Linked DNA regions of Homo sapiens: region 1 is linked to region 2. Evidence: fine-mapped expression QTL. A gene starts in region 2. The other region holds a variant in brackets. All regions are shown on one strand. Distances are from middle to middle.

The links.
Region 1: its variant is fine-mapped to the expression of ENTPD4 in whole blood (TOPMed, PIP 0.93).

Annotation. Positions count from the first base shown.
Region 1 is chr8:23,420,821-23,433,154 of GRCh38, forward strand. It overlaps ENTPD4 (ectonucleoside triphosphate diphosphohydrolase 4), which reads right to left. Exons shown (of 13, transcript NM_004901.5): 13 at 8,342-12,334. The coding sequence ends at 12,106. Among named protein-coding and RNA genes, the nearest start is that of LOXL2, 23 kb to the left of the region's middle. RefSeq lists an enhancer at 1,402-1,902. The variant G/T (reference allele first, on the strand shown) is at 5,316.
Region 2 is chr8:23,450,506-23,462,839 of GRCh38, forward strand. ENTPD4 (ectonucleoside triphosphate diphosphohydrolase 4) reads right to left here and starts at 7,142. Exons shown (of 13, transcript NM_004901.5): 1 at 7,052-7,142. ENTPD4-DT (ENTPD4 divergent transcript) reads left to right here and starts at 7,266. Exons shown (of 5, transcript NR_186533.1): 1 at 7,266-7,484; 2 at 8,709-8,849. RefSeq lists enhancers at 130-837, 2,253-2,959, 4,309-4,810 and silencers at 2,131-2,425, 6,676-7,355.

The DNA.
Region 1 (12,334 bases), 30 kb before region 2:
TGGTATGGAAGGTAAAGACTCCAGCAGAAAGACATTGGCAAGTGTTAGAGGAAAAGAGGAAAGTTTATCCGAAAGTGTTACGGAAATCCCCGGAAGAAGGCCAATGGAAAGGTCCAGTGGATTTACTAATGTGGGGAAGAGGGTATACTTGTGTTTTTGCAGGAGATGGATGAACTGTGTGGGTGCCCTCAAGGTGCGTGCGACCATGGAATGGGAGACTGGAGGAACCCAGGGTGGCCAACCATGGACCCGGTCCCGGTATGAGCCATGAGTCAGCTGAGCCTGAATGCAAAGACGGAGAGAAGGCCGACCGGAGTCACAACACAGTTCTAAGGTTACATTTGTAAAGAATATCATCACTCAATTTACAGTTTGTGTTTTTAATCCTTATGTCTTTTTGGCAGCTAAGAAGGACCAGCTCCAGGTAAACAATACCCAATTGACCTGTAAATCTTGCCAGTTATATCACTGCACTAATCATAGCACATTGCAAACACATAATATCTCTACTGTGATGATTTTAGGTGGTATCCCTGGGCTAGGGATTCCTGTTAATCTGTCTGAGCCTTGGGCTGCCACACCTGCTTTGCATTTTGTGAAACTTCTAACTCAGCTGACTCATCGTGCCCGTAGAGCCTTAGGCATGATAATTTTTGCTACTGTTTACTTGGTCATGCTAGTAACTTCTGTTGTGATATCTTCTGTAGCTTTGCATAATTCTATTCAAATAGCTCAGTACGTGGAGAACTGGACGCGCACAGCTGACCAAGCGTGGCGACTTCAGAATAAAATTAACACTGAGCTACAAACTGAAGTGGCAATGCTGAAATCCACGGTTCTGTGGTTAGGGGCACAAGTACAAAGCTTGCAGTTGCAGCAGTAATTGCGCTGTCATTTTAATCACACTCATATTTGTGTAACCAACTTAGAATACAACCAAAGTGAGTATCCGTGGGACCTTGTGAAAGCCCATTTGCAGGGAGCGTTCACATCCAACATCACCTTTGATATTGGTGAATTACAAAACAAAATTCTTGATTTAAATAGGCAAACTCAAGAATTTCAGCCTTCTTTAGAAGACGGGACCAAATTCCAGCAAGGCCTGGAGAGCCTCAACCCTTGGACCTATCTAAGGCACCACATTAACATCTTATATGTAGTTCTTGGAATAATGTTGTTTCGTCTCTGTCTTCTGTTTATAGTCTGTAAAATCGGATGGACTGCCAATCGGAGAATGAGAGCTGCCCAGCCTGGCCTTACATTTTTTCAATTAATTCATAAACAGAAAGGGGGATATGCAGGGAGCCGAAGGCCCATGGGATGTGACCAACGCAGCATTCCACTGGAGGCTATATGATCCAACAGCAAACTGTTTATCATGAATGCAGGATGTGAGAAAACTGACGACTGCTCCTGCCGACAGAAGGTTTGCTGGAGGCAATCACTCCCTGGCGCTGAGGTTATCTACTGCAACATTTAGCCTGTTGTTCGAGGAATGCAGTCTTGCAAGCCTGCTCTAGACTGAGCAGCTGACCCCTTCTTCCACCCCGCTTCTCACTATCTCTTTTGCCTAATAAATAAGGAGGGCTGTATAAAGCTCAGGGCCCTTGTCCACTAGGGGCAAGGTACCCCCTGACCCCTTCTTCAAAATATACTCTTTTGTCTCTTGTCTTTTATTCCCGTGTTTGCCCCGCTTTGTTCAGTCCCCCTAGGTCCGTGCAGGTTACAGTGGAATCCGTATTCACGTGCATATTCTGGCTCATTTCATACTACAGAAGCAGTGAGGTGAGTTTTGGACAGAAGTCATGTGGCCTGCAAAGTTAAAATGTTTATTATCTGGCCCTTTAGAGAAAAAAATTGCTGCCTGGTCTGAAGCGGCATTTTTCAAATGTGAGCATGCATTATGAGTGACCTGGAAGGCTGGCAAAATGAAGAATTTGATTCAAGAGGTCTGAGACCAAGCCTGAGATCCAGCACTTCCGTCAGGCTTCAGTGATGTTGATGCTGCTGATTCAAGGACCACACTTTGAGAAGCAAGTACCGAGAGCAGCTCCGTCTGACGGAAATATACTGTGAGCCACACAGGCAATTTAGAGTTGTCTAGTGTACACATTAAAAAGGTAGAAGGAAACAGGTGATGTTAATCCAATAATATTTTATTTAACTCAATATACCTAAAATATTGTCATGTCTCATGTACCCAATGTAAAGAAACTGAGATATTTCATATTTTTTTTACATGAAGTCTTTGAAATCTGGTGTGTCTATATCTATATATAGACAGACAGATATAGATATATATTTTTTTGAGACAGAGTCTCACTCTGTTGCCAGGCTGCAGTGCAGTGGGGAGATCTCAGCTTACTGCAACCTCTGCCTCCCGGGTTCAAGCGATTCTCCTGCCTCAGCCTCCCGAGTAGCTGGGACTACAGGCGCCCACCACCATGCCTGGCTAATTTTTGTATTTTTAGTACAGACGGGGTTTCACCATATTTGCCAGGATGGTCTCAATCTCCTGACCTCGTGATCCGCCCGCCTTGGCCTCCCAAAGTGCTGGGATTACAGGCATGAGCCACTGTGCCCGGCCTGAAATCTGGTGTATATTTTATACTTACAGCTCATCTCAGTTTAGATTGGCCTGTTTCATGTGGCTAGTGGCCGTCATACTGGACAGTGCAGCTCTAGAGTACAGAATGGAGCCAGGCTGCCTGCGTTCAAATCCCAGCCCCACCACTGGCTAGTTCGGTACCTTGGGCAAGTTGTGTGCCTTTTCCACATCTGTTTCTCCACCTGTAAAGTGACGGTAATCAAAGCACCTCCTCATGGTGTCATTTTGGGGACTGACATGGTTAGGCTTTGTGTCCCCACCCAAATCTCATCTTGAATTATAATCCCCACAATCCCCACATGTCAAGGGGGAGACCAGGTGGGGGTAATTGAATCATGAGAGTGGTTTCCCCTGTGCTGTTCTCGTGATAGTGTTCTCAGGAGATCTGATGGTTTTATAAGTGTTTGGTAGTTCCTTCTGCATTAATTCTCTCTCCTGCCACCTGCCAAGGTGTCTTGGTTCCCCCTCTTCACCTTCCGCCGTGATTGTAAGTTTCCTGACGCCTCCCCAGCCATGCTGATCTGTGAGTCAATTAAACCTCTTTCCTTTATCAATTACCCCGTCTTGGGAAGTTCTTTATAGCAGTGTGAAAACGAACTAATACAGGGATTATGTAAGCTAACAAAGAGCTAGAACAGTGCCTGGCGTGTAATAAGCTATCTTTCTGTTATGATGACGGTTCTGCACAAGAAGCACCTTCTTTCCCTCTAATAAAGCAAGGAGGTGGTGCCATCTTTCCTGCCCCCATCCCTGGGGCCAGACTGTGGAGTTTAGCATGCTCTCTCAGTTCTCAGCCTGGTCATTCCCCCTCGCTTTAAGGATCCTGCCTTGTTCATTCATTCCACAGATATTTATTGAATGTCTACCGCCTATCAGATCCTGTGCCTGGGGATACAACATGAAAACACACAGACAAAAGCCCCCTGCCCCCTGGCTCATGTTCTAGTAGGGTAATAGGGAGAGTCGTACATAGAACGTAATGAAAACAGAGTGTACTAGATCTAAGGTCATAAGCATCATGGGGGAAAGTGAAGCAGGGTGAGGGGGATGGAAAGTCCTGAGAGGGCCCTGAGGCCAGGGTGGCTGGAGCGGAGTCTCGGAGAAATGAGGACTGCGGTCAGAGAGGTGTGGAGTGGGAGGCCACGGTGCAGGGCTGTCTAGGCCATTATAAAGACTTCAGTTCTTCCTGAGTCAAATACAGAGCCGAGTGGAGAGCTTTTGCCTAACAACTTCAAGGTCTGAATCACAGCTTATCAGGCTGCCGTGCTGAAAACAGCCTGGGTTGGGTTGGGGTGGGGTAACCAATCAACCTCCCTGGCCCTGAATTGAGGGGCTCACTGGGATGTGAGGTCACCCTAAAACAAGGAAATCAGTTTTATCTTTTCTCCTCCTTTCATAAATAATCTGTGTCCCCATAACGTCCATTTTAATGTATTTGAATCAAAATATGCACATCCTCATAGGACATACAGTGCCGTATGCCCTACATTAACATAATGGCATTATACAACAATTCTCATGTCTTGCTTTCAGTATTCAACACTATTTTTAAGAGCCACCCGCTTGCTGTTCATAGTTCTAGGTCTGTCTCTCATGGCTATACAGTATTCCATGGTACGCACCTGCCGCCTTTGACTTGTCCAAGACCTTGCTTGCCTCCATCAACACAGTCACTCAGAATCATTACCAAGGAATCCTTCCGTAAGTCCATTCATGGACCCAGGTAGAAATCTCTCCGGAGAGCCACGCGCAAGTGGCTCTCTGAATCAAAGGGCACACACGCTGCTAACTTTTAAGCTGCCAGCTTCCCTTCTGGGGTACGCATTGCAGTTTGCACCACCACCAGCAATATTGAAGTCCAGGCCCCGCATCACTGCCAGCACTTGAAGTCTGGCAATTCTGAGGGGCATAAGGTAGTGGGTCTTAATTTACATTTGCATTTCTTCAGCTTAGTTTATCTCTTGTTCACCATTTGGGTTTCCCCTGCTGTGAATCACCTATTAATATCCATGGCCGGTTTTTTCTTTTGGATTTCCTTTTTCTTGTTGTTTTGCATGAAACTTTGTACATTTTAATCCCTTTTCAATTTCAGTCACTGCAAATACCTTCTTAGTCTGCCATCTGTTAGCTTTGATGAACAGAAAGTCTTACTTTAGATGTAGTCAAATCCATCCTTTCCCCCTTACATTTGGTGCTTCTTGTGAGGTTTAAAAAGTGACTTTTAAGGACAACTTAGAATGAAAAACAATCTGAAGCTATGTTTAGAATAAAATAAATATGCAGGAATTATTTTCTGTAAGCAGGGCTTCAGAAAATATCAATCTCACTTTGCCTCTATTATTACTACCTAATTCTGGGATTTCTTTTTCCTTTCTGTCAAGGCTGAACAGGTTGCGAAAAAAGGAAACCACTTGAGGTAAACTTGGTTTTCCTAAGTTTTTCTAAATAAAGCTTTAAAATGCAACACTCCCTTAACAAACTCTGGTGGAGGGAAGTGAACAGAGAACTGAGACTCAGAGGCCTGGGTTCCATCCCGCCCTTCACGGCACATTGCATATGGTTTTAAAACCACACACAACTCTGCACATCTGGAAAGAACAGCAAAAATTGAGAATAAAATATATATATATTTTAGACAGAGTCTTGCTCTGTCGCCTAGACTGGAGTGCAGTAGCACAATCTTGGCTCACTGCAAACTCCGCCTCCT[G/T]GGTTCAAGTGATTCTCCTGCCTCAGCCTCCTGAGTAGCTGGGACTACAGGCGCCCGCCACCTTGCCCAGCTAATTTTTGTATTTTTAGTAGAGACAGGGTTTCACTATGTTGGCCAGGCTGGTCTCAAACTCCTGACCTCGTGATCCGCCTGCCTTGGCCTCTCAAAGTGCTGGGATTACAGGCGTAAGCCACTGCACCCGGCCTAGAATAGATTTTAAAAGATTTCTTTCATAAATTTTAGAAACCTAAAGAGGTGATTTGTGAAAGAAACCAGATTTTCATTAGTTTACAAATATTTACAAAATACTATGTACTACTCGGTGTCTTCTTTACTGGATTATAAATGTAGAAACATGGAAAGTAAACACAGGACCTGTCATGGTCCATGTTCAAGGACATTTGGGCCAGAAATAGATACACTGATGGAAAACAGGGCCACGGGAGGTGGGAGAGAATTTAAACGTGTAATTTGAACATTAAACAGCCAGGAACTTCCAGAAAATTCTCTTGTGCTGCCATGACCAGTATCAAAGAACTTTACAAGGCTGAGGAGAGCCCACCAAATGTTTTAAGTGTTTTGAGTCTAAAATCTGGGTATTAAAGCTTGGGCCAAGTGGGAGAAAAAGCAATCTTAGGAAAAGAAAGTGCTAAGTCTGGTCCCTGGAGTTTAAGGCTTGTGTAATGACAGGCAAGAATAAGGTGATTAGGCCCGGTGCGGTGACTCACGCCTGTAATCCTAGCACTTTGGGAGGCCGAGGCAGGTGGATCACGAGGTCAGGAGATCGAGACCATCCTGGCTAACACGGTGAAACCCCGTCTCTATTAAAAATACAAAAAATTAGCTGGGTGTGGTGGCAGGCGCCTGTAGTCCCAGCTACTAGGGAGGCTGAGGCAGGAGAATGGCGTGAACCCGGGAGGCGGAGCTTGCAGTGAGCCGAGATCGCGCCACTGCACTCCAGCCTGGGCGACAGAGTGAGACTCCGTCTCAAAAAAAAAAAAAAAAAAAAAAAAAGATGATTAATATTTTCAGAACTGTCCACTTCAAACTCTGATTCTCATGAAGGCAAAAAGGGTGAAAGGTAGTATTCACACTCCCAATTAGAAGCCTGAGAGAACAGCAAGAACAGCTGGCACAAGGATGTTGTAGAAATAACACAAGAGAAGACCCACACTGGGGATTCTAAAGCTGCTCCTTTGTGTTTCGATGGCGTTGCCACCGACAAACCTTTCCCCTTCCAGTCACACAGGGGCCACTGGAATCCCAATCCCTTGACAAAACACCAGATGCCTGAGATGTTTATTTGATGACTGGTTGAACGGGAGGAAAAAAACTCCTTTTCTCTCGTCTTTGGAGTTCACCTACTTAAACAAGAAGTCTGTCTTTTGTGCCTGTCACCATCGTGTTCTGTGAGGAGGTTTCAGTCCTTTACTCAAGGCAGAAATCCTTCTTAAGCCTTGATTTTCTTGTTTGGGCCTCTTACATGAAACAGACACAGGCTGTTGACAGAAATGTTGAAGTGGCCATGAAGTCTGGAGCCCGGATGTCGTTCACCTGCCAAACAGTGTCAAGGGTGAAAGGCAAAGATCGAAGGCCAAAGTGCCCCTAGCGTCCCCTGCAGCAGGTCTCAGTCAACCTTAATAGATCTATTAATAGAAAGAGGCTGGACTGCGCAAGGGCAGGGGGACTAGCCTGGCTAAAAGCAAAATAAAACACATCAACAGACACACTCTTCTTTTGTTAGGAGGAGGTGGGATCACAGGCCCACATGCTCCCAGACGAGGTGGGGCCAGGAAGACTCTCACAGGATTGCCTTTCATGCTGCCACGGATGGATGCTCCAGGCAGATCCACTCTGCCAAGGCGTGCTTTGGGATTAGCCGGGCACTCCTTTGTCTTTTCATGACGTTTCCAAAAGAAGACACTGTGACTCTGACAGAGGTGACCTGCACCTCACGACCCCCTCTGTGCAAACCATTAGCATTTCCGGATCTCAAAAAAACCAAAAAAACCCACAGGGCACATGCCAATTCATAGGACAAATGGAAACAGACTGAAAACAAAAACACAGAACCATGGCTTTTCAGACCTGTCAACATGGTTAGTGTTGGAAATAGGCACTGACTTCTCTTCCACCAAGTGGAATAAAAATTTAGATGTCTTTTAACATCTTAGATATTTTAACGTATTTAAAGTCAGGCAAAAAGCCCTATAGTCATTGCACTGCCTCAAAAATTATTTACGACAGTTCTATCTTAATGCTGTGTCCTGTTTTCCTAGCGATCAATGGCTTGAGGACCTCCCTTGAGCTCACTTTGCTGGCTCTGTTCTCTCATTTTGTTTTTGCGCTTCCCTCTCCTCTCCGGCATGTCTCAGGCCTTTATTTTTGTTGGTCCTAACAGCTGGTCCCCTTCCCTTCCCATCTGTCTCTATCATCTATTTTCAGGTTATGGCTCAGGCCCACCTTCCTGCTCCAGGAGAACATCTATGTATTCTCCAACGGCTGAGAAACATGCTGAGCGTCTAATGTCATCCTCCATATTGGTAACACGTAACATTAATAATGACAGTCATAATTTTCTGGAAGTAAGCCAAAGGTTCTAAGCTTAGATCGAACTGCAAAACAGTGTAACATAAAGTCAGCATTTGCTGTTACTATTAAATACATAAAAATTGGTTAATTTTATTACTTTTCCTTGTCTATATACAAGTAGGTACTTAAAATGGTGACCTTATAAACAGTCATCTCAGAGTGGCAATTATTGTTGGTGAATGGCTTAACGTCGTGGGTTGGTCACTACTTGTGAAATATCTGCTTTCTGAGCTGCAGAGAGTGTGGACGCCCTCTCCACAACCCCACACAATTGTGCTTCACTGTATGCACACCCAACACAACACATGCAAAGAGTGTGCGTCAGACTCAGACAATGTATTTCACTGAATTTGGACTCAAGTTCAACTCATCATTCTAATGAGTAAGAAGATTCAAAGATGACAAGGAAGCAAGCCCACACAGTCTACGGGCCATGGGATGATGAACTTTCGTTTTATTGATTTTTCAGTACCCAAGTGTGGCACTGTAAGGCTGCCACATACAGCAAGTGACATGACACCAAAAGGACCTTCCGAGAGTATTATTCTTACTTTGGATGGAAGACATCGCTTAAACAAAAAACATTTAAAGATGCTCCCTTGCTTTTTATAATTCCTAACTGTAAAATATAATTTTAGTACAGAACAAACAAATTCTCCTTGGTTGGTCACATCATTCATTATTGAAAGGGAAACTTAGTATCAAAAGAAACAAAACACTGAAATAAATAACTAAGTAATTTACTGAAAGGTAGTTTTGTTGCATTGCACACAACTGACCGCAGAGAATTCTAAAGCTGATTTTTTTCTTAAAGGATGAAAAACTCATTTGCCATTTTTAGTTTCTTGCTAAGTGATACATGCTCCTTATAAGGAAAACTACTCTGTGTAGGCCTGAGTTTAAAATGTAAATATCTGTTTATCCAGAGTTTGTTAATCTAGAGTACACAGATGTGGAAAACTGGTGGTGAAAAGAGGGACCTACCCAGCCTTCAGGGTGGCTGGGCAGGGGCCCCATGTTACTGGCCTCAGCCACCAGCAGCGTCTTCACTCCGCCCAGGTCAGAAAGCACTGCCTAAAGCCGGAGCTTAGGATGAACATGGGCAAAAAGCACTGGTACAGTTCCATGTGTTTCTCTTCTACTGTAATGTCCCCAGAGGGATTGTGAAATGTCTGAGAACATCCCCTGGAGGAGGTTTAAAAGTGAGAAGCCCATGATATGGCTATGGAACATAAGCACTTATTGCTGGCATGTTTCTACCAAGATTGAACACAATGCTTTTCTTTGATAAAGCTTTGGGCAAGTTCCTAGTCCAATTTCTTCTGCTACAAGTACACAGAATTTACTGCCTTCTTGGTCAGCTCTTGGTATGAATTCTTCTCTTGAATTAAGATCCTCCCTGGCTTGTCTCTCACCCACCCTGTATCTCTTAGAGAAAGCACCTGGCTGTCTTCACCTACGCGAGACCTTCTCTGGAATGTGATTTGCTGCGACTGCAGACATCTCCATACGGCATAATGAACTCCCTTGAGTGGTCTCTTTTTAAACAATTTTGGGTGAGGGGCAGGTTTCTTGGTTTGTTTCAAAACTCATCTTGAAAATAATCTAGACGGAAAAATCCGAAGTGAAATTCTGGTGCAACAAATATTTTAAGATTGAAGTTTGGTTACTTCTCTTGTCCATCTTTTCGTGCCCACAAATGGAAACTACATTCCTGATTTAAGAGGATGCTTCTGTCTGTATCCTTTTTTGAACTGCATTGTTCTCACAAGGACCAGCAAACTTTTTCTGTAAATATTTTAGTAAATATTCTAGGCTTTACAGGCCACATATAGTGTCTGCTGCATATTCTTCAACGTTTTTTCTTAGGCAACTGTTTAAAAATGGCAAATCCACTACTACCTCTCAGCTGGAGCAATGAGGTTTTCTCAGCCCTTGTTTCAGGATCCTCAGGTATGTGACTAACTCTTCTATGCCCAGAGCTGGAAGGCGGGGTCCCCTAACTCCCTGGGTGCCCACCTGCCCACTTCAACCATTTGTGGCCCCTTCCTTTCCTTTCTTCCCTCTCTGCTGCTGACACCAGTGGCTCCATCGCCAGCTCCCTGCAGCCTCCACCAATAATCCATGGCTCCTCCAGGAAGTGTCGCAGGCAGGTGGCCAAGACCAACTTATTAGGTAGCCAGAAGCTCACCCCTTTCTTAACAACTTTGACCACGAAGCGCAAATACGATGCAGGTAAATCCAGAGGCAGAGCCTGGGTCCCCAGGCTGCTGGTAACACGCTTTGAAATCCAGGTGAGGGAGCCATGCCCCCACAGCTCTTGCCTCAAGGATCAGATGCATTTTACCTTCCAGAGACGCAGGTTAAGCTGCACCTGAGGCAGTTTGAGCCACAACTGGGACAGAATTCCCTTGGTCTTCTCTTCTGATCCCTCAGCAGAACTGCCCCTAATGCTCAGTTCATGGCAATACAGGCCTTTTCTCTCCTGTTTCTCCAAACTCTCCCAGCCTCTGCCCAGTACCTAGTTCCAAAGCCACTTTTATAATATCCTCAGTTATCTGTTATAGCAACAACCCCACTTCTGGGTACTAATCTGCTACCAACTACAGGAATTTAACTGTTCTGGAGTTAGGGAACAGCACACACAGACACTCGCACAAAACAAACTCCACCTAAAAAAACTGTACGAGAATTCCCCAAACTTCTCAACTAAATAAATAGGTGAAAAAACACCAATCTCACATATGCCAATCCAATTGTCCTTTTTAGATTTTGGCTTAAATTGTCGAATTTTTTCCTTCAAAATGTGAATTTATTTCCTGTATTGGATGCAGACTCTTCCCTTCTGGATTTACAGTGGTGCTGCCAGCAACAGCCTCAGTCAATGCGGTTAGGAAGAGGACTCGGCAGGCTGTGCATGGGGTCTCCCAGTACGATTAAAAGCTGAGATGACTTTTAATTAAGGGGGGTGGGGGAAACACCAATTGGAAGCTGGAAGAAACTGAGGCACGATTAAGCAGAAACACTGAGGAATACTGAGCAAGAAGTGGGCATGTGCTCTAGTTCCAATAAAACCGAAACTGGTGAAACTAGGAATTTCCAATTCTTTCAAAACCACAGTGTTCTAATGCCACTGAAATATGGAATAAGGAGCGTAATTACCTGCGGTCAGGAAAAGATAACAGTAACGAGGATTTTTCTAAATAAAATGTACCAGTAAATTCTGAAGTGTGTGTTTTTAAAGAACCAGCATTGCCTCCCCTCACGCTGGTTTCTTGGGATTTTTCACACACTCGCACAAAGCTGTAGTCGATAGTTCACTATCACTTTTATAAATGGTTATCTCCTGGTGCCCATGTTTCTCTGTTTTGGATATAAATGGTTTAAAAAATTTAAATTTGCAAAGAAAACATATACAGTAACAGACCTGAACAATAAATAAAAAAAAAAATCACCCTCTTCAGGTTAGAGCTTTCAAGATAGAGAAAAAAGAGGATTATCATTTCAGGCAGTAAGTTTTTTGGTTCTATGAAAGCATCACTATTCAGTCCCCTCTCCACTGACAGAATGCATCTTTCCACCTCCCTCCAGTATCAAAGTGCATGTGTTTAAATTTAACATTCCTTAGAGAAACCCCAGAAATCTCATTTATTTTTGGCAGATATCCTGTGCAGCAAAAATCAAGTGAATTTCCCTCTTCCCCACTCCTCAATTTAATGCTGTACTCAAAATGGCTAAACGCAATACTTCTAGACAGCAGGGCTTATAAACAATGCATTTTTTTTTTTTGAGACGGAGTCTCACTCTGTCGCCCAGGCTGGAGTGCAGTGGTGTGATCTCGGCTCACTGCAAGCTCTGCCTCCCAGGTTCATGCCATTCTCCTGCCTCAGCCTCCTGAGTAGCTGGGACTACGGGCGCCCGCCACCACACCCAGCTAATTTTTTGTATTTTTAGTAGAGACGGGGTTTCACCGTGTTAGCCAGGATGGTCTCGATCTCCTGACCTCATGATCCGCCCGCCTCGGCCTCCCAAAGTGCTGGGATTACAGGCGTGAGCCACCGCGCTCGGCCTGCATTTTGTTTTTGTTTGGAGGAACAAAAAAGGGAAAGAAAAAACAAAACCACAGGAAAATAAAGAGGAGAAACCCTGAGGCAAAAATGGCTTTTCCTTTTGAGTCTTCGTGGAGCTGTGAGCTGGATCACAAGGTCCCCGGGGCATTCTGGGCGGGAAGGCCCTCCTCCATCCAGAGGGCGGCGGCCGAGCTGCTCCGGGGAGTGCGCCTGTGGATGCGCCGCAGCCGCAGCAGGTACAGCAGGATGGCCAGCAGCACCACCAGGAAGCAGCCAGAGAACAGGTAGTGGTTGTAGACAAAGGAAACGCCCCGCCAGTGGGTGTGACTGGCTCGGAAGGCCTCCTGCTGGATGTCT
Region 2 (12,334 bases):
CAGGGCCTCCTTCCAATCTGCTGAAGCCAAAGGACAAGCGGTCTCTATCTTTCCTCGGTCTCACAAAGCTGCTTGACCTCTCAAGACAGCTGTCTCGTCTGGTCTGCTTCTGAGCTCTGGAATAACTGCTGCTCAGGATCCTTTAAGCGTTGTTCTCTGCCAACCCCGACTACTCTTATGTTTCCAGGCTCTCTGTCTAGCCTCATTCTCTTCTAACTACAATCATTACTGAGGCTTCAATGATCAGGTAACTCAAATTTTTCTTTCTCCACCCCAGGCTTCTCTTCTACACTTTTTCAACAGCCTATGAGCCATCTCTATCTGAATGTTGCACAGAACCATGAGAAAATTCTAAAACTGCACCCCTAACAACTGCAATCTTCTCCCCTTTTTCTCCTAATCTGCTCTGCCCCCGCAGTCCCAATCTTGATCCCACCAAGCTACACAAATCGGAAACCAGATTCACGTGTGATCCCTCTTCCTTCATCTTCCAAATGTAATTTCTTTTTTTCTTTTCTTTTTTTTTTTTTTTTGAGACAGAGTCTTGCTCTTGTCGCCCAGGCTGGTGGAGTGCAATGGCACAATCTCAGCTCACTGCAACCTCCTCCCAGGTTAAAGCGATTCTCCTGCCTCAGCCTCCCGAGTAGCTGGGACTACAGGCGCCCGTCACCACTCCCAGTGAATTTTTGTACTTTTAGTAGAGACGGGGTTTCGCCACGTTGGCCAGGCTGGTCTCGAGCCCCTGACCCGGTGATCTGCCGGCCTCAGCCTCCCAAAGTGCTGGGATTACAGGCGTGAGCCACTGTGCCTGGCCCCAAATGTAATTTCTTACAGATTCCTTTAATTTCTTTAACCTCAGCTTATCTAAAATCCCTTTCCTTATCATCTTTGCCTGAGATCAGGCTCTTATCTCTTGCCTGCTCTAAAGAGCAGCCTAACTAGTCTTCTACCGGCAGTCTCAACCAGTGACCTCGCCTTTATCACCCTCGGGCAATGATACTTTCTTGGAAATTGATAGCTCCACACTCCCACCCCTTGCTCAGGACCCCGATCAGATTACTTCTGTACTCAGAAATCCTCCAAAGACTCCAATCTACAAAGCCCTACAGGATCTAACACCTGTTAAGGCTCTGACCTCATCGTCTGCTCTCTCCTCCTTTACACTGCATTCCAGCCACACCAATGTTCCGAGTGGTCTTCAAAAATGCCAGGCACTCTCTGGTCTCAGGGTCTCTCAACTTGTTGCCCCCTCTACTAGGAAGTAATCTGTATGGCTCACTTTTTCATTCCCTTCAGGTCTTTACTCAAATAATGTCACCTTCTCAAGGAGGACTTCCCTGGTCACCTGATCAATAACTGCAATGCCTACCCCCTCCCCAGCAATTCCCTTCCCTGATTGATCTTTTCTCCTTAGCATTTATTTATTTATTAAATGCTTTTATAGTGCTCATTATGTACCAGGCCTTGTTCCAAACATTGTACAAATACTAACTTCATTCCCCTAACAACTTACAAGACAGATACTATTATCACAACACTTTATGGATGAGGCAGAGAGGCTAAGTAACTTGTCTAAGGTCACACAGCTCCTGGGAGGGAGAGGTGGGATGCAAGTGTGAGAATCCACCCATCCTTGTCCTCTAACATAATGCGTGTCTTGTGTTTCTCTTTTTTGTCTCTTCCCCCAGAATGGGAGCTCCCCCAGGCCCAGGTTTTGGTCTGCTCAGTTGAGTGCTGCAGTTGTAGCTTTGCAGACCCTAGGAAAGGGACTGGCAAGAAGTCAAGTTTTAGAGTTCTGGGACCCAAAAGGGTTAAGAACTCTACACTAGAGTGACATTTCCAAAACAAACAGGGAATCATAACTCCCCATCCCCCAACTTTTCTCTCTCACTCAGGAAACAGTCAACTCCTTAGGGTGTAAAAGAGGTCCCTCATGATTTAGTCCGGTGCTGTCCAATGAGGCAGCCACTTGCCATGTGTGGTTATTTAAAGTAATTAAATTTAAATAAAATTAAAAATTGAGTTCCTCAGTTGTACTAGCCACCTTTGAAGTGCTTAATAGCCACATATAGCTTCTGCATTAGCCAGTCCACACATAAAACACTGACATCATCGCAGAAAGCTCTTTGCACAGTACTGATCTGGGGCCTATCTTTCTGTCTCATTCCCTGACAGACCCCTCCTACGTACCCTAGGCTCCAGCCACATGAAACACAAGCTACAGATCACTGAAATGCCTCGCATTCCTTGGCATTAGCAGAATGAACCTCTTCCTTGTGTTGTCAGTTGCATTCCTAAGAATCAATGCTGACACAAATCAAGCATGAGTCCTCGGTGAGTTTCCCTAATCCTCATATCCCCAGAGTATTTGCTTATCACAGCAGTGGGCTAAAGTATTATACGTGTGGTTGGCTTCCTCATTACATGACAAGCCCCACTAGGGCAGGGACAGCCTCTTATTCTTCTGTTTCCCCCGTGACCAGTGCCTGCCACACAAATCATGAGTAACTATTGCAGGTTTCACAAATGGCTGGAAATGGGAGACACAAAGATGAATTAGATATAGGCCCAGACCTTAAAGAATCTATAAGGCAGTGGAGGAAATAAAACATACACACAAAGATATTAGAGAGTAAAAAGTATTAATAATGCCTACCTGACAAAGGGGAAAAAATCACTTTAATTAGTTCAAGTTTTAATATGGTGTCCATATTGTACCATGTACCCCAAATTTAGGACAAACAATGTCTGTGATTTAAAAGTTTACACAAAAAGTAAAAAGAAAAAAAAATCAATGATCTAGACGTTTAAATGGATTTTAATGTTTTTATAAAATAGCTACACAAGTTTAAAACTTCTGTGTGCTTAAAACAAACAAAAAAATCCCTCCCTGCTATGAATACACACAACTTGGGAAAAGTACTTGTAAAGTGCATGACAAAGAGTAAATAACCTTTACATAGCCAGTTATTATAAAGAAATAAGAGAAAGACTGAACAGAAAAATGAGCAAAGACAATTTGAGATTATTGAAATAAATCTCATTGAAATGGCTGATAAAATAATCAGTATTCAGATAAATAGAAATAAAAACAGCTATCATATTGACAGACATGAAGGCCTGGTGATACTTGGCTAACAGGGGAAGGGGAAAAGGTCGATGAGTACTGCTGTGAGACTCTGGACAGGCACATCACTAACCTTCTGGGGGTACTGGGGTGACACACACGAACACTTATGCATGCCTATCCTCTGCTCTACCCATCACACTTCCAGAAATTCATCTTTAGGAAGTCATCAGGAAAATTCACTAAAAAATCTATAGGATGGTCATCATAGTATTGTGTGGAACAGCAAAACACTGTTACTAATGTCCACTGTGGGGTACATTTATGCAATGGAATACAATGTGACTATTAAAGGTGATGACATAGATCTATTTATTGACATGAAAACAAGTTCATGATATATTAAGTGAAAAAATGTCCCCATGCATGGGGGGATAAAATGTTAGGAAAGAAACCAAAATATTAACAGTGCTTAGTTATTTCTGGGCAATGAGATCAGGTATCATCTTTATTTTCTTCCCTAGGCTTGCCTATATTTTTCAAAGGACATATATTAATTTTATCATCAGAGGAAATAACAATTTTTAACAAGCTACCTTTGACGGATGAAACCTTGTTTCCAGGATCAAATACTTTTCCGAATATATTGAGAAAGCCTATCTTAAAAGCCTATCAGGACACAGGAATTCCAATCTGAACATTTAAAAAAAACATCAGTGATAGTTGTGTGATAGCTGAACTGAGAACCAAAGAAAAGACAGTTTTATTTAACAGCTTAAAGTCATGGTTAAAGGCAAACTGGTCCTTGAGGAAGAAAGTCAGGACTACGAAGGTGACATGAGGAGTAACAAACCCAACTCCAAATTTCATGGAGTTTGCAGATTGCTACAGAGAAAATACTAATGCCCAGAAAATAGTCAAGATACTAATTAAAGGCAATGTTAAATTACTGGGATTCTTGTTATAAGAGCTCAGAGAAGAGCACAGAGAAGGCTAGCTTTAGCAGGAAAAGATTCCTAGAGGTGGGAGGTCAATTCTAGATGGGGTGAGAAAGAACACACTTCGAAGAGGAAGGTGACCGAGAGAATGATCACAGCGCACTTAGGAAACTTTGTGTCATCTGAGGTTTGTCTCAGGAATTTTTTTTTTTTGAGATATGTGATGATTTTGATCAAAAGGACAAACAGATATTTTAAGTTACAAAGCTTGTGTTTAAAAGCAGAGAAAATAGGACAGCTTATAACTGCTGAAGCACTGTAATTTTAACTCAGGACAAAAGTACAATGGATTATTGCCTAAGAGTTAAATGGTAATTTGATCTTCAAATGTAAACTCCAATTGTCCTTCTAGCTAAGAATCTTCGCACCAGGGCACTGGGAGGCAAATTCAGTAATACCACATAAAACTGACATGTTTTAAAAAAGCCTAAATTGTGTTAGACCTATCACCAGAGAGATGCATTAATTCTCATGATTTCAGCTAGTGGGGCCCTACTTGGCTGAACATTATTGGAATAAAGCCTACAGTCAGGTGTCAATGTCTTTGTCAGTCTCTCACTGACAGTTCTACAGATAACGACGAAAACAATGCAAATCAACCACAAAGGGAAATGGTTCCTCTGGTGGAAAAACACAAGATGCAAGGAAACAGATGTTAGTGAACTCAAATCACAGGCAAACAAAATCACAGAGAAGTCAGCCTCTGGGAGAGCTCAGCTTCTGAATAAGCAAAGGTACCACAGGGAAGGGTACTTCAGAAAAGAATGATTTGAATATCAAAGGATTCAAGAGAACCTGGAAAAATTAAAGATGCTCTCAACCATTCCGGCAGCGTTTTGCAAGAAACAACTGTCTTTCTGAGAGTGAGAGGCTGATGTGGAGGCTGCCGGGTGGCACCGTTACTCAGTAGTGACAAAAGATACATGAAGACAACTTGATTCATTCTTTAAGAAGATATGTATGTAGTTGCATTTATGATCTGTATGTTCAATATTTATCTTACACATTTTAATTTTATTTTTCAATATAAAATCTTAACCTCTTCCTCCCTCTATTAATTTGCAAAATTCTGGTTCCCATTTTAAGTAGTCTTTTTCTGGTCACTTTTCCTGAATTAACTCTGACTTTCCTCAAGTTCCAGTTCCACGTTCCAAGCTCATTGAAGCCCTGTTACTGCAAGCTCAACTAGTCCAACTCTAGGGTTGAAATCTTCTAATGCAAACTCTAATACCACCCTCCAAATTCTCCAGGTCTAAGACGGGTACCACCAATCCCCATTGACCTGGATTACCTGGTTCTCAGCTTTGATTCCCACATCCGGTGTTGACAATCTTCTATCATTCTCCAAGCCAGTCGATTCTTCCTCAGATATCCCTCATATCTAAGATGACCACAGCAGGCACCACTACCTCAAGACAGATCTCTTGGCGACTCACCCACCTTCTGCCTTCACTGTGCACGCCACACTTTACAAGCAACTCTTTGTAAAACACGGCCTTCAAAATATGATCAGCTAAGAACCTTCTGGAAGGCCATGGATCAACACCAAGTTTCCTGTGTGGCACCTGAAACCTTTTATCCATCAACTGGTCCACCTTATCTCACCAACCTATCCTCTCATCAGTCCCAGATACCATCTCTCAGCTCCAGTGCAGCAGGTCTCTCTCTTCTCTCCCACACAAGCTGTCTCCATGCCTGCCTCAGGCATTTACTAACAGCACTTCCTCCGAGCCACCACCGTGTCCTCCTCTCAAGACTACACTTCTTTCAAGGCACAAGTCAACATGTTTCTTTGTCAAGATTTAACCTGTTACACATCCTGATGTTTTCTTACAATTGGAATCGTCTCTTTATTCATGAGTAGTCTATTTTAAATAAACATGCTGAGTAAATACGTAGAGAATATAAATCCTTAGATAAATGTTCATTTTTGTCTCCTTCCTAGACTATATCCTCAAGGGCCTCAGTCACACATTTCCTATTAGAGGTAGAAGAATATAAGCCATAGATTCAACATGCAACAACTACAAGACCTCTGTTAAGGTAAACAGAGAAATAAACGATTCAACTACACGAATTAGTGTTCCATTTTATAATTCTACTATGTCAAACAGAATTAACAAACCTGATACAAAAACATCAAATATATGGTAACACAAATAATATAACTCTTTTAGGCCTCTCTAAAGCTGGATAATTTGGTATTTTCATCACAAAAAGGAGACAACAAAGACTGCAATGCGAAATTAGCCTGGGCTTTGAGTGTCTAATTTAGAATTCTTCCATTACCTCTAGTTTACCTTCTAGCCTGAAAGTTCCTGAATCATAAAGGATCTCTTTAGTTTCCTTCGTGATAAGTGTTCTCTGAAAACGCTCTGCACTAGGGTTCATCTAACTGGGGTCTGAAGCACCCTAAGGGTTCTGGGACACATTCTAGACCATGAGAGAATTGTTCCTTTAAAAGGGGTCCGCGCATTACTCAAGTTCAGAAACAATGCTGTGCATCATCACTTTACTGCCCAATAAGCTCCATTTTTCCAAGAAGAAATCTAACATGAAATCTGGCAAAAGCAAAGCAAAGCGAAAACGACAAGACGAGCGAATGTCATCATTTAAAGCGGCAGGCAGGGCCGGCTGGGTCCCGGGTGCAGCATCCCTGCTGCCCGGTCAAGCTCCGCCCATTCGAGGGGGGGATCCCGAGCGGTCACCCGAGGCGCGCGACCGCCAGGTGTCCCCTGCCAGGGGCTGGGGGAGCGCGCCGGCCGCCAGGGCTCACAGGGGTTGGTCCCGGGGCGCTCGGATGTGGCCGCGCGGCAGGGGAGGCGGGAACCGGTCCGCGGGGCTAAGCAGGCGGCTGTGGGGGCCTGGGGCAGAGAGGCTCGTCCGCGGCCCGCTCGCCGCGCCGCCGGCCCCCGCACTCCAACCCACTCGCCGGCCCCTTCGGCCGCCCGCCCTCCCCTCACCCACGCTCGGAAGGCAACCTCACCTGCTTGGCCGGCCGGGGACCCCGGGAGCGGGGGACCACCAGTGGGCAGCATCACGGCCAGCCGGCTTCCTGGAGGCCGCGCTCCTTTCCTGGAGCCGCACCCCCGCCCGGCCCCCGCCGGCAACACGTCACCGCCTGCGCCCGGAGCGCGCCCGCTGGCGGCGGGAGCGCGCACGCCGAGGGGCGCGTTGAGCGCTGGGGGGCGGAGCCTGATGCGGGATGATTGGCGTCCGAGCGCTGGGCTGTTCCGTGGACCCGCGCGGCCACGCCAGTGTGCTGTGCACGGGAAATGTGGACGTGGGAGCACGGAGGCACCCAGTACTGTGGCGTGGTGCTCGTCTGGTCGTCAGCGAGCCTCAGCGTACTTAGGACACCGCAGTTTATCTTTCCTTAGCGCTCCTAACGGTTATGGAAAATAGCGCTTGAAAACCTGGTAAGGACTAGGCATTGTTGCTCAACTCTTGACATTTACACCTTTGCCGGTAACTCTCCCTGTTTCACAGATGGGGAAACGGAGGCTCACACTTATTCAGTCTCTCTTGAGATCCACCTGATTCGTGAGAGGTAGAGCCAGGATTTCATTCTTGCCCGTCGATGGCATATGTTAGTGCCTATGTTGGGGGAGGCAGACTGCCCCAGCCCTCCCCAACACACGCAATGGTTATGAGAAGAAATAAAGCGAAGGGTGTTCCTGAGATTGACCCCATGACCTACACTTAGTACAAGGCTAAGCTCTCTTAGCTCTCTGGCTTAGCAATAAACTGCTTTGAAGACACAGAACTTTGCACTTGAGAGCCGGAAGAGACCTTGGGAATCCCGGGTTCCATCCTTTCTTCCACCTTGTATACAGGTGAATGCACTGTGGCCCAGAGATAGGAAGTGACCAGCAATCCAGCCACTTTAAAAGATTTTTAAAAACAAGAGCCCTAGAAACGTCTACTCCATTCCATTTATCAAGTAAAACAAGCATAGACAGAACTGGCAGTTCTACATCTTAACACAGAATCCTTCTTGGTCCAGCACCCGCCTGGGTCACCTCCTCTTCCTGGATTCAGCTACTGTTAACGGAAGAAACCATGAAGCCTCAGAAGGTTAGAGCCAAAGGGACTCTACTGTGTAGCCCCAATCACCTTCTTTTACAGTTAAGAGCCTGGAACCCAGAGAGGTTGAGTGACTTGGCCAAGACCCCCTGGAGGCAGAGGAGAGCAGAACCAATGTTTCAGACTCCCACATGACTTGCGCATCAGTGTCTTTTTTTTGACAATCTGTTGCTATAAGAAATTACTCGTTTGGATAATTTTCACACTAGAAAACCCTGTGACCCAAGGCTAGCATTGAGAAGCTAAAGCTGGCCACTGACATACTGTGATTTTAAGGACAGTCTCCTTCGAAATTATCTGCCTTTCAAAATCTTTGCCATTGGAGACACTGGTTGGGGTTATGTTAGTCTTCCTTAAGGAGGGCTCTACTAAAATGCCAGACTAGGCCGGGCATGGTGGCTCATGCCTGTAATCCCAGCACTTTGGGAGTCCAAGGCAGGTGGATTGCCTGAAATTAGGAGTTCAAGACCAGCCTGACCAACATGGTGAAACCCCATCTCTATTAAAAATACAAACACTAGCTGGACATAGTGGCTTTTTTGTGCCTGTAATCCCAGCTACTCAGGAGGCTGAGACAGGAGAATTGCTTGAACCCGGGAGGTGGAGGTTGCAGTGAGCCGAGATCACGCCAATGGACTCCAGCCTGAGCAACAGAGTGAGACTCCATCTCAGAGAGAGAGAGAAGAAAAGCCAGACTAGTAAGTATTATCACACCATCCATATTTCCTGATAATTTATATGTAATAATTGTCTGATAAGAGCTAGGAAAGAAAAATATAGGAAAGTATGGAAACGTGTAACTTGGCATATTACATTCTAGAGCTGCAGTGACAAATTGCCCTAAACTGGGTGGCTTAAAGCAAGATAATTTATTGTCTTCCAGTTCTAGATGGTAGAAGCCTGAAATGAAGGTGTCAGCAGGGCTGTGCTCTCTCTAAAGATCTAGAGGAGGATCCTTCTTTGCCTCTTCCTAGCTTCTGGTGGCTACTGGCCATCCTTGGCCTTCCTCAGCTTGTAGATGCATCACTTTGGTCTCTGCCCCTGTTGTCACATGGTATTATCTCTGTGTGTCTGTGTCTCTGTCTCCAAGTTTCTTTCTTCTCATAAAGACACCAGCCATATTAGATTCAAGGCTCACCCTCATCCAGTGTGATCTTATGATCTCATATTAACTTGATTATATTTGCAAAGATCCTATTTCCAAATAAGGTCACATTCATGGGTTCTGGGTGGACATGAATTTTTTGGGGGTGGTCACTATTCAACTTAGTACATGAGAGGACCATCCTGGTCTGGTTCATCAGGGAGAGCTTCTTTGAGGTAACGCTGTCTGAGGTCACACCTGCACAATGAATGGGAATTTATTAGAATTCTGGGCCTATATGAAGGAATAGTATTTCAGTCAGTGGAAACAGCAAAGAGGCTCTGAAGGGGCCCATTCTCACTTGTTAACAAGAGAAACAAAAACTGGAGCTAGGCTGGGCGCGATGGCTCAAGCCTGTAATATCAGCACTTTGGGAGGCCGAGGCGGGTGGATCACGAGGTCAGGAGATCGAGACCATCCTGGCTAACACGGTGAAACCCTGTCTCTACTAAAAAAAAATACAAAAAATTAGCTGGGCGTGGTGGCAGGCGCCTGTAGTCCCAGCTACTCAGGAGGCTGAGGCAGGAGAATGGCGTGAACCCGGGAGGCGGAGCTTGCAGTGAGCTGTGATCGCACCACTGCACTCCAGCCTGGGCGACAGAGCAAGACTCCATCTCAAAAAAAAAAAAACAAAAACTGGAGCTAACAGGAGGGAACACTTACTAAGTACTTTATGCCAGGCATGGTTGTAAGAACGTTAGAAAACACGGCATACAGAATGATAATGAAACTGCATCAAAATATGTGGAATGCAGTCAGAACAGTCCTTCAAGAGAAATTTATAGCTTTAAAAGTTTATTTTAGTAAAGAAAAAAGGTTTGAAATCAATTATCTAAGTTTCCACCTTATGACATTAGAATAAGAAAGTGAATTAAACTCGAAGTGAATAGGAGGAAAAAAATAATAAAAAATAATATGAGACATTAACCAACTTACAAGTTGGTTCTTTGAAAATATTAACAAAATTGCTAAACTCCTAGTGAGATTGAGCAGGACAAAAAAACACGAATAACAAATATCAAGCATAAAAGAGGAAGATCCCTACAGATATACAGAAATTGAAAATATAATAAGAAAACATTATGAATAACTTTATGCTGATCATTTCGATAATTTACATTAAATGGAAAAAGTCTTTGAAAAATACAACTTCCCAAAACTGGCACAGGAAGAAATAGAACATTTGAATCACCCCATATCTTTAAGGTCCTAAAAAGAAAATTCCAGAGCAAGATGGCTTCACTAGTAAATGTTTATCAATCATTTAAGAAAGGTAATATTGATTTTATATAAACTCTTTTGAAAGAACAAAGGAAGAGAGAACACTTTTTAATTTATAATTCAGAATAATCCTGATACCAAGAAATAAAAAGGAAAGAAAATCACACACCTATATTTCTTACATAGGTGCAAAAATTTTAACAAAATATTGGCCAATCAAGGTCAGGTGTAATGACTCATGTCTGTAATCCCAGCACTTTGGGAGGCCGAGGCAGGTGGCTCACCTGAGGTCAGGAGTTTGAGACCAGCCTGGCCAACATGGTGAAACCCCATCTCTACTAAAAATACAAAAATTAGCCAGGCAAGGTGGTGGGCACCTTTAATCCCAGCTACTCAGGAGGGTAAGACAGGAGAATTGCTTGAACCTGGGAGGTGGAGGTTGCAGTGAGCTGAGATTGCGCCACTGCACCCAGCCTGGGTGACAGAGTGAGACTCCATCTCAAAAAAACAAAAACAAAAACAAAATTGGCAAATCAAATCCAGCGACATCTGAAAGAGCAAGATAGCATTACCAGGTGGGATTCTTTTTTGAGGAATGCAAAATTGGCTCAACATTTGAAAATCAATCAATGTCATTCACTACATAAACAGAATAAAGAAGAAAATTCATATGATTCGTATGATCTCAGTCAATGCAAAAAAAAATTTGGCAAAATTCAACACCCATTCATAATTTTGAAAAAAAGCCTTTATCAACTATAAAGGGTATGATTTTCCTCAGCTTGATGGAGCATCTACAAAGAATACAGCTATCATGGTTGTAAAATCAAAGTAACTCATTTTGTGCATGGGACTTTAAAAGTGTTAAATGAAATATTGAACAAATATGTGATACCTGGAGATACATGACCATTTTGCAACCATGGGACAACAGTCATCCTGATAAGAGCCAACAATAAATACGATGGAACTGAAAGATAGAACTGTTTGGGTCCATGATGGCATCATTAAACCGCTGAACTAGTACCAGTGACTGTGTCTACCCCCTGACTTCTTATTAGGAGAGAAAAATAAGCTCTTTATTTGTTTAAATTTCTTTTGGTTGGATATTCCATTACTTGTTGTTAGGTCTTTAAAAATATTTGTTGACTGGTTGGGTGACTTGCTCAAGGTTATAAAACTAAATGGGAGACAGGATGACTTAATGTAAAAAGTACCAAGCCGGGAGGCAGGAAACCTGAATCCTTATCCTCAATAGACTGTGTAAGCTTAGAAATTGTAGTTTGCCTTACTGGTCCTCACCATCCATATATAATTTGTAAAAGGAAAGGGGTTTGTGGAGATGGCTAAGCTGACCTTTAACGTTCTTTCCAGGTCTAAAATCTATGATTTCTAAGAGGCAAAAGAGAAGACTAGAAGTAAGATTTTCCCTTTCTCTCTTCTCCTTTCCCTCCCTGCTGTGGTCTGAATGTGCCGCCCAGTTTTCATGTGTTGAAACGTAATGACCAATGTGATTAGCATTAAGGGGTTCTGCCTCTCAGCATTAATTAAGTCATGAGGGTGGAGCCCTCATGGGTAGGATTAGAGACCTTATAAAAGGGCTTGAGGAAACGTGTTTACTCTCTTCTGCTCTTCTGCCCTGTAAGTACTTAGCACTCAACCCCTTTCTGTCTTTCCATACCTTCTGTCAGATGAGGATACCTATATAGCTCAATCTTTGAGGAACAGGTTTTTACCAGATAGAAAATGTGCTTTGGACTTCCCAGCCTCCAGAACTGTGAGAAAATATATTTCTGTCCTTTATAAATTATCCAGTCT